Homo sapiens: one gene and its partners. The protein of the gene in region 1 interacts with the protein of each later gene in a biochemical or structural test. Each region holds a gene or a part of one and is shown in the gene's direction. Other genes may lie near its edges.

The links. Proteins that work in one complex are often made in the same cells at the same time.
Region 2: the proteins of LYN (region 1) and NDFIP2 form a complex in vitro, tested with the Homo sapiens proteins (one study listed by BioGRID).
Region 3: the proteins of LYN (region 1) and CENPV form a complex in vitro, tested with the Homo sapiens proteins (one study listed by BioGRID).
Region 4: the proteins of LYN (region 1) and INPP5D form a complex in vitro, tested with the Homo sapiens proteins (one study listed by BioGRID).

What each region holds. Positions count from the first base shown.
Region 1 is NC_000008.11:55,998,117-56,001,888, forward strand, and holds part of LYN (tyrosine-protein kinase Lyn), read left to right. Parts: intron 1-229; coding exon 230-383; intron 384-1,301; coding exon 1,302-1,433; intron 1,434-3,772. UniProt on the Homo sapiens protein: Non-receptor tyrosine-protein kinase that transmits signals from cell surface receptors and plays an important role in the regulation of innate and adaptive immune responses, hematopoiesis, responses to growth factors and cytokines, integrin signaling, but also responses to DNA damage and genotoxic agents.
Region 2 is NC_000013.11:79,550,450-79,554,221, forward strand, and holds part of NDFIP2 (NEDD4 family-interacting protein 2), read left to right. Parts: intron 1-567; coding exon 568-671; 3' UTR 672-673; intron 674-2,066; 3' UTR 2,067-3,772. UniProt on the Homo sapiens protein: Activates HECT domain-containing E3 ubiquitin-protein ligases, including ITCH, NEDD4, NEDD4L, SMURF2, WWP1 and WWP2, and consequently modulates the stability of their targets. As a result, may control many cellular processes.
Region 3 is NC_000017.11:16,346,903-16,350,674, reverse strand, and holds part of CENPV (centromere protein V), read left to right. Parts: intron 1-645; coding exon 646-744; intron 745-1,989; coding exon 1,990-2,059; intron 2,060-3,772. UniProt on the Homo sapiens protein: Required for distribution of pericentromeric heterochromatin in interphase nuclei and for centromere formation and organization, chromosome alignment and cytokinesis.
Region 4 is NC_000002.12:233,066,637-233,070,408, forward strand, and holds part of INPP5D (phosphatidylinositol 3,4,5-trisphosphate 5-phosphatase 1), read left to right. Parts: intron 1-3,772. UniProt on the Homo sapiens protein: Phosphatidylinositol (PtdIns) phosphatase that specifically hydrolyzes the 5-phosphate of phosphatidylinositol-3,4,5-trisphosphate (PtdIns(3,4,5)P3) to produce PtdIns(3,4)P2, thereby negatively regulating the PI3K (phosphoinositide 3-kinase) pathways.

The sequences.
Region 1 (3,772 bases):
TTTTTTTTTTTTTAAGATGACCATTGTTGGAGATTTGGCAGAGGGTGGTCAGTTATTTTAGAAAGGGCTCAAATGGTGATTGCCATTACCCACTGTCTTTAAAAGCTGAATGATCAAAATAGTATACATGAAAAGATTTCAGGAATTCATAAGTTTTCCGGTTTTCCTTGATGGCACTTTCCAGTCACCTACCCTACATATGAAAATGGGAGCCTATTTCTGTTTTCAGATTGCAGAGGGAATGGCATACATCGAGCGGAAGAACTACATTCACCGGGACCTGCGAGCAGCTAATGTTCTGGTCTCCGAGTCACTCATGTGCAAAATTGCAGATTTTGGCCTTGCTAGAGTAATTGAAGATAATGAGTACACAGCAAGGGAAGGTATGTTGCACTAATGATCTTTAGATGTTTTATTATTGTGTTTTATTTTGTTTTTGTCTGTTTTTGACAAAGCAATTACAATAGTCACCATTAAGAAAAACTTATTTGGTACAACATTTAAGCTGTACCATAATTGTCTGCTTATGGTTCTATTCTAATAGTTTCTAGAAGGTACTCTCTTGATTAACTCCACATGATACTTTTGTTAGGCTTACAAATGCTATCAGTTGTATTTCAATTAAGCAATGCAAAACACAAATAGATTCAGCAAGATGATTCTTGTTTATTTTGTATTGTTAAAGTTTTCACTCAAACAATGAATATAATATACGGGGCTGTGGAGAAAATATTTGTAACATTAATTCTATATTGTTTATTCCAGCCTTTTAATTACAAATTAAAACATGAACATTACCATACACACAGAACTAAATATAATGCAAAAAATCTACTTCTTTATTTTCCCACATTCTGTATTATATATATGAACCAAAAATGCACAGAGAGGCCTAAGTTCCCCAGCCTGTGGCACATTGTCAGGGGGCCAAGCATGGTCGGGACTGCAGGGCCTTTCTTGGGCTAGGATTGCCCACGTGGTTATGACTGAGGATTCTTATGCTCTCACCCACGAGAGCTGAGCAAATATTTTTGCAGTGCTCACTGTCTTCTGGAAGAGACAAGCACTTTCTTGAAATTCCTAAGCATTGTTGAACAAGGATTATTATTATTTTATTATTTTGAACCTGGGAGGTGAAGGTTGCAGTGAGCCGAGATCGCATCATTACATTCCAGCCTGGGTGACAAGAGTGAAACTCCGCCTCAAAAAAAGAAAAGAAAAGAAAGTATGGGGTCACATGTTCATGACTTTTTTGTTTAAGTTTAAATACCCAAGTAAGAACCACATATCTTCTTCCTTAGGTGCTAAGTTCCCTATTAAGTGGACGGCTCCAGAAGCAATCAACTTTGGATGTTTCACTATTAAGTCTGATGTGTGGTCCTTTGGAATCCTCCTATACGAAATTGTCACCTATGGGAAAATTCCCTACCCAGGTATGGTTTACTTAGCTATTTACAATCAAGCTGTATAAATGAGAAAAAGTCAGGTTGCATGAAGGCATTAAAAAGTAATAATTACTTCATCTACCCGATAGCAAAGAATAAGTGCTTTGAGCCAGAACTTGATTTTCACGGGCTGGGCATGGTGGCTCACGCCTGTAATCCCAGCACTTTGGGAGGCCGAGGCAGGTGGATCACCTGAGGTCGGGAGTTGGAGACCAGACTGACCAACATGGAGAAACCCCGTCTCTACTAAAATTACAAAATTAGCCAGGCATGGTGACGCATGCCTGTAATCCCAGCTACTCGGGAGGCTGAGACAGGAGAATTGCTTGAACCCGGGAGGTGGAGGTTGCAGTGAGCTGAGATCGCGCCATTCCACTCCAGCCTACACGACAGAGTGAGACTCCATCTCGAAACAAAAAAAAGACTTGATTTTTATTTTCACTATCTTTAGCATAAATTGTTCTAAGAGTGCTTAGACACTTCTTTGCCTCCTTATTTTGAGTGTGTGTTCTTGTTCTGCACTGATTAATTCCACCACATACTAGAATGTTCCGGGCATGGTTGTTGGTGTCGAGATGAGGATGGATAGACACAGGGGCTCCTCCAAGGCAGTCCCCCTGACTGGAAGGAGGAAACCCACATGGAGACAAGGATTTCCGATGCTTGGTTTTGTAATAAGTGCCCTGGAGTCTCTCTCTCTTCAAGAAATAACCACCTTTGTTTATCAGTGGGAGGCCCTTCTGCTCTTTAACATACTGGTATCAGTGAGGGCATCATTCAGTATTTATTTCCAGATTCCTAACACCTGAAGCCTGCAGAGCCAGATTCTGACCATCCCTCCATTTTTCCATGGTCTGTGCTGGCATGGTTAAGAAGAGGGATTTCGGCCAGGTGCAGTGGCTTACACCTGTAATCCCAGCACTTTGGGAGGCTGAGGTGGGTGAATCACGAGGTCAGGAGTTCGAGACCAGCCTGGCCAACATGGTGAAACCCCGTCATTACTAAAAATACAAAAAATTAGCTGGGCGTAGTGGTGGGCATCTGTAATCCCACCTACTTGGGAGGCTGAGGCAGGAGAATCACTTCAACCTGGGAAGCACAGGTTGCAGTGAGCCGAGACTGCACCCCTGCACTCTAGCCATGGCGACAGAGTGAGACTCTGTCTCAAAAAAAAAAAAAAAAAAAAAAAAAAAAGAGGGATTTCTCCCAGAGCCTTCATATTTTCATTTATGTTTGACTATTAACAAAATATTTGCATGAGGGGAATTTAAAATTAAATTTTTAATGTTTAAATCTTTCTCCTATTCAAAAAATATTTGAGTATGCTAGGCACTCTCAGCTGCTAGGATGCCATGGTATCTGCCCATGTCCTTGAGAGTGAATATTGTAGTGGGGAGAGACTGATGTTTATCAAACACACAGCCATCCTGTAGGGTGGTGAGAGTAGTGTGGAGCCTGCGTGGAGTGGCTTAGGGATTGGCGAGTACTCACAGAAGGGGGTGGGGAGCTGCTGGTTTTATTCCATGGTCCTGGCAGCAGCAGGGACTCACAGAGGGAGGGAGTCTTGGGCTCTCTGAGGTCTGCATGTCCCCATGGGGAGAGCAGCCAGAGCATGGGCTTGGCCAACAGGAGCAGGAGGCCAGCGTGGTTTGGGCCTCTGTGAGTATTTGATGGATGGATGGGTGAATGAATGAATGAATGAATGACGCACCTAGGCCATTTGATCTCTAGACAGTCGATGGATGAGAAAGAAGGCTATGTAGCTGGGGGTTAGAGTGGCTCAGGGAGAGACTTACTGGCCATGTAAGAGCAGCCCCTCTTACTCTGCTGAGATGCAAACCAGGGAAGGCTTTTGGACAGAGCAGCCACACAGTCTGCGTGCTCCCATCACTACTGTTTCATGTGGGGATGAGCCACAGAGAAACTGGGGCAGGGACCAGTTGGCAGCTGAAAGCCTTTGGGTGGTGTCTGCCTGCACAGTGGACCGGCTGTCCCAGGAAATCCCTTTAGTGCCAGCATTTCATCTTCCAGCTGCTCTAGACACTGAGATTAATGAATTAACATTGCTGCAAAATAGGAAAAATATTTCTAATCAGCCCCAGTGTCTGATGTTATATATCTCTATCTCCATCTATGCCTACATCTCTTTCTATAATCTGTCTGTAGAGAAAGATTATATAGTCAGATTATGTATATAATCTGACACCTGATAAACATACAATCTCATAAAAGAATGTTTTGTGATATGCGTGGTGTGCTGCATGTGATGTGCTACCATGGCCCCTGAGGCTTGGAGAAGGTGATTGGGCCCCTCGCTGGTGGCAAAG
Region 2 (3,772 bases), on another chromosome or scaffold:
TATTACTTCAAAATAAGAACTCATAATTAAAAATATGTACATAATGCACGTATCTTCAAATACAGATTTCACAGATGACAGGCACTTGATATTACTATACAGGCTTATTGTTTTTTTCCTCATAATTGTTAGTAACCTCATGTATATATTTCCTTTTTATCTACTTTATATAAATAAATATGTCTTAGTTCACCCAGTAGTTATATTAATTGAAAAGATTGAGCCCATGGGTTCAATGGGGTTTTTATGAGTTGAATCAGTTTAAGTGCGTCAGGTAACTTTACTATTGAAGAAAATCACTTAAATGTATATTTTTATGTAATTCTGGATTTTTATAGCTAGATTTGCTTTAATTTTGGTACATCTAGGCTTAACAAATTGAAAAATTGTATTTCCTTGTGACAGAGTTTATCCTTATAGTGTAAAATATATTACAGAAATGAATGGAAGTCTGCAAGTAAAATTCCTTAAGCCAAGAGGATCTTGTTTATAATTGTCTACTTTAAATTTATCTTGCCCTTTTCTGTATAAAAACATAGTATATCCATATTATTTCAACCTTCTCAGGCCTGCTCCTTTTCTTCAGAGGATTTGTTAATTATCTAAAAGTCAGAAACATGTCTGAAAGTATGGCAGCTGCTCATAGAACAAGGTATTTCTTCTTATTGTAGAGGTAAGAAATATTAATCTGTGAACTCTGCCTATTCCCTTTATGTATTCAAATTTGCCAGATACATATTAAATGCCTAATGTGTATTCATGATTTTTACTGTTAGCATATTTAATATTTTTTAATACTGCTAACAGTCAGCTTATTGAAATTTGATAAGTCATAGACCTTTTTAGATAACTTTTAGATTTTTAAAATTGAATTTCATAAATTTTAATTTTTAAAATACATAGCGAGTGAACTGAAATTTTGAATCAGACTTTTAAAACTTCTCTTTAAAGATTAACCATAGAATGTATATGAAGTAACCACCAGCACAAAATTTGAAGGCTTGAAAAAACAAAATATGACATAGTACTTAGACCGAAGGAATGAGCATTTTTGTCTAAAACAATATGAAATTCACATAGACATCTGGTGGAGAAAAAAATCTGATTGAAAAACAATTTGTCTTGCAGTCCTTTTAACAGTCTGGATTAAGGAATAAAAGTCATGTGAAGAAAATAGTTCTGTTATTGTTTTCTTAATGTGTGCTGATTTTTTATCAACTATGAAGGCTACAACTTGAATAAGTAGGAATATGAAGAAATGAGTAGAAGTTGTCTTACTGGTTATCCAGTGAATTTCTGGAGGTCGTGGGTATAGTAATAGTATTTATTTATTGTTCAGCGGGAGTATCTTCACATAAAGTAACCTCATACTCCCTATTCTACTTTTTAAAGCAAGTACCATGTACTTTATACCTATAAATAAGGTAAACTTATAAAGCATTTGAACTCTATTACCAAAATGTCTACTAGTACTTAACTTCTGAATGCAGGACTATAAGGAACAAAGTGTTTCAAGTTTATTAAGTATTCTTTTTTCAAATAAATAAACTGCATGCTTTGTGATTTGGTTGCTTACATTTTATCATTTATATAAGTTATACATAAGCTTATATAATTTACTTATTTCTGCTAGAGTACTATGAATACATTTGTATTTCTAGATCATGTTAAAGTATCATTTTAAGTGTTCTACTAAAGTCTCCCCCAACCACTCCCAAAGAAGTCGCTTTTTTATTTTAACAAGCAAAATATCTTTGCAGACACTGGCATTAAGAATTTGTCAGTATTAATAATAAGATTAAAAGGCAAAGTAATTTTGCTGTTTTACTAATTTGTGTGATTGTCTTCTATGCATTTTGAAGAGTCTAAAATACAATGCAAATATTTTCTAGATGAAAATCTGCTATAGAAGCCTTACACTTTAGAATGTATTCTGATATGTAGACTTTAATGAAGAGAATATTATATACTTAATATAATTCTTCTATAAAATGTGTTGTATTATACTATGATTTAGATAAAGACAACTTAATACATTTTAAGACTAATTCCTTCTTTGTCTCCAGACTGCATCAACCCGACATTCCTTTCTTATACCAATGTGAAATTTCCAGATCATCTGTAAACCTACAACTTTAATAGAAGACTACTAATAACAGAAGACAAATTAGTGAAGAAAAGACGGAGTTTCGAAATTGAATGGCAGGGTGGTTTTTGCTTACAAGCCATTTCTGTTCATTCTTTAAGTATCTATATTTCATTTGTTTTGCACATATGCATATGTGCCCATTTAAGATATTTGCATATACTTGATAGAAACCATAAAGTTGTAGCAGTTAAGTCCAGTCACATTTGGTTAATCAGTGTTTGATATAATTGAAAGAGTTGAGTGGATAAACAGTCTTCCAGCTTGTAAATGCCATTGACTTCTGACCTGACATTTAGTATAATAAAAATGAAATTCTTAACCATGTCAAATGATTTAGTTTCTGGCTCTTAGACTCATCTGGCAGTTCTACACATGAAACATCTTTTGTTATATAAGGTGTATTGAAACCTGCAGTGCTGATTATTAGAAAGGATTTGTCAGATTTTTGAACATGATATTTACATTATTATTTAGGAAAACTCTTCCTGTAAATAACCATGCATAACTTACTTTCTGCAATGTTTTCTTAGAAATTGTGTCCAGATAGCTTTCACTAATTTTAAATTAAGTGAACTAAATATATATGTGTATATGTATACACATATATATACACACACACATATATATATTTAGAAACGTGAGTGTTAAAGATAGAATTTGTTTTAGGACAAATTTTAAGAAAATGTGGGAATACCAAATGTCCTTTATAAGAAAAATAAATTTTATTTTAAGGGACATACTAGTTTTAGGGATTTTCAGATGGGAAGCTGCATTTTTAGGATTGCCCATCTTAAGAGATCTTGCAGGAAGAGATTGTATTAGATATTATATTTATTTCATTTAAGATAATTTTCAAAGTTAATTTTCTAAATAAGATAATTCTCATTTGTGTTTGTCTTTTAAAAGGCCAATAAAATATCTTTCAGTATCATTGTAATAATTTTTTAGAGTTTAATTTGTAAAGCTTAGCAAATAAAATCTTGTACTATGAATAGCTTCTTGCTTTATGACTTTAGGATTAACTTGTAAAAAACATATCCTGAACTGAGATATGCAAAATACTCATTTTCAAGTTATGGAAATGTGTTTGTGGCATATAGGACTGTGGGGTCTGTGTGTGTAGTGAGAGTGTGTAGCCACTATTATAACTGGAATTTAATTTACATTCATAAACTACTATATTTCCCATCTTGCAAATCATTTTATGTCTCATCTGTTTTTCCTTTCGGTTATATCTTTGGTTTTGAATACCAACATTTAAAATGATGGTATTTTATCTTTTAAACTTAAAAATTATTTAATACAGCTATATGGACCTTATAAAATTGATTTCTTATTTATTATTAGACATTACTACTAAAAGGTACATCTAACTATTCAGGGACATTTTTCCATTTCCAAAAAATAAAATTTATTATGCTTTATAACCTCTTCTGTATTTTCTAATTTTTTCATTGTCTTTGATAAATAAAACAGTTTTGTTTTGCTAATATAGCCTATTTTTTGTTTTGTCTCATTCAGTTTACTTTCCTGCGTAGAATTTTTATTGTTATATTAAAATTTTTATTGTTGTATTAAAGTACCTGTGTTACACCCCTTGAAGTAAGACAGTAGCATGGGGTA
Region 3 (3,772 bases), on another chromosome or scaffold:
TTCGTGCCTAGCTCATAAAAATATTTAGTATTTGAGGCCCGGAGCAGTGGCTCACGCCTGTAATCCCAGCACTTTGGGAGTCCCCGTGGGTGGATCACAAGGTCAGGAGTTCAAGACCAGCTTGGCCAAGATGGTGAAGCCCTATCTCTACTAAAAATACAAAATTAGCAGGGCGCGGTGGCAGGCGCCTGTAATCCCAGCTACTTGGGAGGCTAAGGCTGGAGAATTGCTTCAACCCAGGTGGCAGAGGTTGCAGTGAGCCAAGATCGTGCCACCGTACTCCAGCCTGGGCAATAGACTGAGACTCCATCTCAAAAAAAAAAAAAAAAATTTAGTATTTGACATATAAATAAAAATGTCTGGTGGTGGGTTAGGATCCCTCACATTTTCGAAATGTTTGGAATGTTTTATTTTGCAACTTAATATAATTTAAGAAATTGGTGAAAAGAGAGCTCATGGACAAAGAAGGTGCTGAAACCATTCTTCACTTAGGAAATTGACAGTGCCTCCTTAAAAGCAGAAATGCATCTGGTTGTCATGTAGAAAAGACTTTTGTCTAATCTTCTGTCTTTCTTTCAGCAACAAAAAGAGAGCAGGAGGCAGCTATTCAGAAATTATTATCTTTCTGATTTTTGTTTCATTTAGTGAATACCAGGGCCTGGTGAAGCACACAGGAGGCTGCCACTGTGGAGCAGTTCGTTTTGAAGTTTGGGCCTCAGCAGACTTGCATATATTTGACTGCAAGTGAGTATTTTTTTTTCCCTAAATTGGCTTAAAAGAATTTCAGAGTTAAAATGCAATATTTCAAAATAATCTGGGGAGTTGGGGTACAGAGGAAACATTGGCCTTGGGCTGGTAACTGTTGAAGTCAGGTGATGGGGACAGAAAGGTTCATTGTTCTATTTTTGTTCCTTTTATATGGCTCATCACAGAGCTTCAACAGCATGGCCCAGGTGACACAGAGCAGGGTCCTCAGGGCTTGTGGCTTGTGGCAGCATCACCCTCAGACTGACACTGCTGAGGAGCCGGGGGCGGTTAGCTGCAGGTGTGCCTGGCTGGGTACTGAGTGGAAAGCCTTGGGCAGAATCTTCATAGAAGTCTAGAGTTGGGGAGAGTTGGAGGGTATGTTAGTAAAGGGTGTATACACCTGGAGGCTCCCCAGGCCCTCCACTCTCGCTCTGCTCTTCGGTTGAGGCAGATGGCACTGCTGGCTGTGGAGGGCCTGATTTGTACCACCTTCCCCGGCGTTATGATGGAGCAGGGACGACAGGCTCTGGCTTTGGGACCCAAAGTTGGCATGCAGCTAATTATTTAACAGCATCCAGTCCTTTTTGCCCCTAGGTACCGGAATTATATATGAATAATAAGCACATACGATGGAATTACTCAAATGGAGAACTGACCAGGCTACTAACAATAGAGTCCAGATTGGAAAAGAAGCACTGTGGAATAACTTGTGAGAGGATTCTGTGCTAAATTAGAACTTTTTCAAAGGTGGCCTGAAAAGAGGGGACTTCAGTTTAATTCCAGAGATGGTAATTCTGGGGACGTGTTTTACTTGGAGCTGGACTTCTTGTGACGTGGTGATGAAGAAAGAGGGAAACCTAAACTTCCTTGTCCATTTTTGGTGTGGATGTCTCAGAGACATCAGGTTGTAGCAGTGTCTGAAATTTGTTTCCTAAGTGTCTCTGAAGTCCAGCGCTTCTCTTCACTGTAAAGAACTGAGGGGTGGGCAGTACAGACCTGTCTGTTGGTCCTGTGTTCTGAGCATTGCAGAACCTCGACTGCTGACTTGGGACCCCCCTGGGCTCTGCTGTACCTGCAAACCAGAGGCACTGCTATCCAGGCCTTTGCCCCAGCTCCTCGGCCCTGGATGGTGCTGAAAGGGGCATCATCTGTGGGGTCGGCTGGCTCTCATGGCTGGGCCGCTCAGGCATAGAGGATGCAGGTGGCTGCTCACAATCTGGAATTTGCTCTGTCTTTCTGTAGTTGCAGCATTTGCAAGAAGAAGCAGAATAGACACTTCATTGTTCCAGCTTCTCGCTTCAAGCTCCTGAAGGTCAGTGCTTAAGAGCAGGGTCAAGGAGTGCAGAACCCATTGGTGAGATTTACAGGACCCCCCACCCAACTGTTAGCATGCCGTCTGTAGCATGGGAGGGGCCTGGAGCATAGCAGGGCCTCTCACGGGCTTTGGTTTCAGGTTGACATTTAAAAGGTGGGCCCGGCACAGTGGCTCACGCCTGTAATCCCAGCACTTTGGGAGGCCAAGATGGATGGATCACCTGAAGTCAGGAGTTGAGGACCAGCCTGGCCAACATGGTGAAACCCTATCTCTACTAAAAATACAAAAATTAGCTGGGCGTTGTAGTGCATGCCTGTAATCCCAGCTACTTGGGAGGCCAAGGCAGGAGAATCACTTGAACCTGGGAGGTGGAGGTTGCAGTGAGCCGAGATCACACCATTGCACTCCAGCCTGGGTGACGAGTGAAACTCCATCTCAAAAAAAATGAAAATAAAAAATAAAAGGTTGTGTTATTTTTTACCTTTATTTTTTGGAGGCCTATTTGGTATTGTGGAAACATTTTCAAATTCAGAGAATCAAAAAACAATAAAATCACCCAAATCCTGTCAACTAAAGGTAACCACTGTTAATATTTTGGTGTCTGTCTTTGTGTATTATTTTCTACTCTGAGAAATACATCTAAACCTATTGTCTTATGTTTATTAAGTAGAATTTTACCATTCTTTTTGTTGATAAACTGCTTATCTCATTTCCCAATGAAAAGCTTATATACTTATTTGTAACTTTAATTTTATTATTTTGGGGAATTTTTTGTACTTGGTACAAAATTTGAAAGGTAGAAGAAAATGTGTATATACACAGTGAAAAATCTTTCCCTACTGTCCCCATGCCCCAGTCTCCCTCTTCCCCACAGCCGATTTCCTGGTCTACTTACCCCATCACTGTCTCTGCATCATTGCAGTTGAGTCCCGTTTTTTTCTGATTATCAACAACACTGGTGAACCTCCTTGGTATACATTTTTGACAATTTAGAAATTTCTTCTTTAGGATCAATTCTCTTAGAAATAAGTTCTCTGGCTATTCTGGGCACACTTCCTACACCCTGCTCTACAAGGAGCAGTTAAAAAAAAAGAGAGAAAGAAAATCTCCAGGTTAAAGAATACAGATTTTTTAAAAAAGACTTTTAGCACATTATGGGTAATGTGGGGTTGGGCGGGGCTTTAATTCCATCCAGATAATGCTGGATGGCTTGGGACCACTTGGCAGTCCTTCGCTGCTTTTCTGTGCTGCAGTGGCTATGGAGTGAGCAAGGCTCCTCAGGGAGCTATTTCTATAGGAAGCACAATTCTGGACGGTATGGCTGGGGAAGCGTAAAGAGGGTTAACAAGGATAAGAAACCTCCACCCCTTCCCCTTCAGCTGTCTGATTTCTCTCCCTAAAGGTAAGCCACTGTTTCTTGGATCCCTCTTCAAAGATACATATGCATATAAAAGCACATACAGGCCAGGCACAGTAGCTCATGCCTGTAGTCCCAGCACTTTGGAAGGCCAAGGCAGGCAGATCACTTGAGCCCAGGAGTTCAACACCAGCCTGGACAACATAGCGAGACCCCCATGTCTACAAAAAATAAAAAATCGGCTAGGTGTGGTGTTGCATGCCTATAGTCCCAGGTACTCGGGAGGCTGAGGTGGGAGAATCACTTGATCCTGGGAGGTCAAGGCTGCAGTAAGCTGTCGTCATACCACTGCA
Region 4 (3,772 bases), on another chromosome or scaffold:
TGCTCTGTTGCCCAGGCTGGAGTGCAGTGGCATGATCTCGGCGCACTGCAACCTCTGTCTCCCGGGTTGAAGTGATTCTCCTGCCTCAGGCTCCTGAGTAGCTGGGATTACAGGCGCATGCCACCATGCCCGGCTAATTTTTTTTTTTCTTTTTGAGACAGAGTCTCATCTCACCCCTGTTGCCCAGGCTGGAATGCAATGGTGTGTTCTTGGCTCACTGTAACCTCCGCTTCCTGAATTCAAGCAATCCTCTGCCTCAGCTTCCCAAATAGCTGGGATTACAGGTGCCTCCCATCACACCCAGCTAATTTTTGTATTTTTAGTAGAGACGAGGTTTCACCATGTTGGCTAGGCTGGTCCCGAACTCCTGACCTCAGGTGATCTGCCCGCCTAGGCCTCCCAAAGTGCTGGGATTACAGGCGTGAGCCACTGCACCTGGCCCTGGTATACAATTCTTTATCGTGCTTTTAGTGCATTCACAATGTTGTGAAACCAACACCACTGTCTGATTCCAGGACATTCTCAATACCTCGAAAAGAAAAGAAACCCTGTACCCACAGCAGTCACTCCCTATTCCCTCTCCACCCAAACCCTGGCAGCAACTAAATGACTTTTTGTCTATGGATTTATCTTTTCCGGATGTTTCATAACTGGAAACATACAACATGTGGACTTTGGGGCCAGCTTCTTTCACTGAGCACAATGCTGTCAAGCTTCATCTGTGTTGTGGCATGAATCACTCCTCTCCAGGGCTGACTAATGAGCCACTGTATTGAAAGAACCACATTTTGTTTATCCATTCATCAGTTGACAGGCATTTGGGTTGTTTCCACTTTTGGGCTATAATGAATAATGCTGTGATGAACATTCATATACAAGGTTTTGTGCAAACATATATTTTCAATATTCTTGGGTCTATATCTAGGAGCAGAATTGCTGGGTCATTTAAGTCTAACACTTTGAGGAACAGCTAAACTGTTTTCCTTGGTGGATCCACCATTTTGCATTCCTACTAGCAACATCTGAGGGTTCCAATGTCTCCACTTCCCTACCAGCACTTGTTATTATCTTTTTTATTATAGCCATCCTAGTGGGTGTGAAGTGATGTCTTATTGTGGTTTTAATTTGCATTTCTCTAATGGCTAATGATGCCAAACGTCTTTTCTCATGGTTAATGGCCATTTGTATTTGGAGAAAAGTCAATTCAGATCCTTTGTACATTTAGAAAACAGGGTTGTTTGTCTTTTCCTTGTTTCCTTGGGTTATCAAGAGGACAAAATGGAAAGATGTGAGTGACATTTACAGCCCAAGTCCAGGCATGTGGTAAGCACCCACCGAATGCTTTGCACACATAAAAATCATGCTGGTGCTGGGCAAGGTGGCTCATGCCTGTAATCCCAGCACTTTGGGAGGCCGAGGTGGGTGGATCACCTGAGGTCGGGAGTTCAAGACCAGCATGACCAACATGGAGAAACCCCATCTTTACTAAAAATACAAAATTAGCCTGCGATGGTGGCATATGCCTGTAATCCCAGCTACTCGAGAGGCTGAGGCAGCAGAATTGCTTGAACTTGGGAGGCAGAGGTTGTGGTGAGCCGAGATGGCACCCTTGCACTCCAGCCTGGGCAACAAGAGTGAAACTCTGTCTCAAAAAAAAAAAAAAAAATCATGCTGGTGATCAGGTGTGGTGGCTCACACCTGTAATCCCAGTACTTTGGGAGGCTGAGGCAAGAGGATCATGAGGTCAGGAGTTTGAGACCAGCCTGGCCAACACAGTGAAACCCTGTCTCTACTAAAAATACGAAAAATTTAGCTGGGCATGGTGGCGGGTGCCTGTAATCCCAGCTACTTGGGAGGCTGAGGCAGGAGAATTGCTTGAACCCAGGAGGTGGAGGTTGCAGTGAGCCGAGATCGTGCCATTGCACTCCAGCCTGGGCGACAGAGCTAGAATCCGTCTAAAAAAAAAAATCGTGCTGGCAATTAGTCTTTATGAGCTAAAAGTGACTAGTGACATCTCAGAAGCAGAGGAGTACAGGACCCATCTGTGAAGAACATTCCATACAGAGGAGAGAAGAGAATGGGGGCAGAGGATTGCTTAGGAAACTTCCTGGAGGCCTCTGGGGGATGCTGAGTTGTCACTTGAGGCCTCCTTGGAGGAAGCACTCAGAGAGATGGAAGCAGGAAGAGGACTGAGTGATGCCCCTGTGACGGAGGCTGCTGGGGACAGGGCTGGGAGCCTGGAAGCCAGCAGGAGGAAGGGATGGGGGCACAGAGGCACACAGAGTGAAACCAGGGGCAATGAACATGACATCAGGAAGAAAGGCAGGCATCTGAAGACCACTGGGCTCCAATTGAGGGGGTGGGTGCAGAGGGTACTGAAGTCCTGGGGCTGAGGACGATGGAAGGAGCACAGCATGTTCCATGACGGGGGTACTCAGGCTTGACAGGTGCGGCAGCACGTGGGGACCAGATTCTCTCCCCTGCTCACTTCAGGCTCCTGTTGTCCCCTTTCATTAGGAAAACACGATATTAACAAGTGCAGGCCCCTAACAGTTTGGGTTCAATACTTACTGTAAACAACCCCACGGAGGGCTGTCCCCGAGAGATCATTTGGGACCTCCCCGGAGCAGAGAGGCTTGCTGGACCACACAGCTGTCAGTGGCAATGGAGAAACAAATAGATCTGATAAACAGCAATGTCCTGTTCTTTAGAGTCACTTTAAAAAATGGTATTTATACAAAGCACAGAAAGTACAAAGCAAAAAGCAGAAAAGTAACCACCCCATCACTGAGACACTAGAATAACCATTGTTAATTCACTGGTGTATCTTCTTCTTCTCTCTACCTCCCTGTATGTATGTAATTTCCATTTTGTATATACATGTATTACATGTATATGTATAATTTTAGTCTGAGATTTCTAGCAGCATTAGCATTTTCCCATTTAGTTAGAATTTCTTCCTAAATATCATATTTTAATTTTAGTCTGAGATTTCTAGCAGCATTAGCATTTTCCCATTTAGTTAGGTTTTCTTCCTAATGATCATATTTAATGGATGTACAGGATTCTATTACATGATGTGCGACACTTCATGAAATGATTCTTCTATTATCAGATATTTAAGTTATCAACAGCATTTTGTTGTTATAAATATGACTGATGAAGGTCTTTTGCAGAAATGTTATAAACATGTCTGGTTATAGATTCCGAGGAGTGGAATTACTAGATCGAGGGACAGGAATGTTTTTAAGGCTCTTGATACAGAATGATACATTGCTTTCCAGAAATTTTTTTCCATATATGCACCAGTAAGCTGTACAAGAGAGTGCCCGCCTCATTCTAACCTTCCTATTCTGAATATTTTCATTTCAAAACACAATACATTGCAAGGTGAAGGTGGTGAATGTTCATTTTGATTTGCATTTGATTGTGGTCACGTTGAGCTTATTTGATAGAGTTATTGACCCTCATAATCCCTCTTTCGTGAATGGTCTGTTCAATTCTCTTTGCCATTTTTCTATCGAAGCTATAGTTTTTCTGTTATCTACTTGCACAAGTTTATATCACACTTGTTGCAAATATTTTCATTGTGATTTTCCTTTAAGTTTTATGATTTTTTTTTGACATTCAGGGACTGTAAATTTTTATATAGTGAAGTCTCTCAGTCTTTTCCTTTTTTCTCCCTTCGCTTTTCAATGCAGAGAATCCCTCTGCACACAGAAATTCACTTGTTTCTTCTTGTACAAGGCAGGTGGGTTATGACAGAGACTTT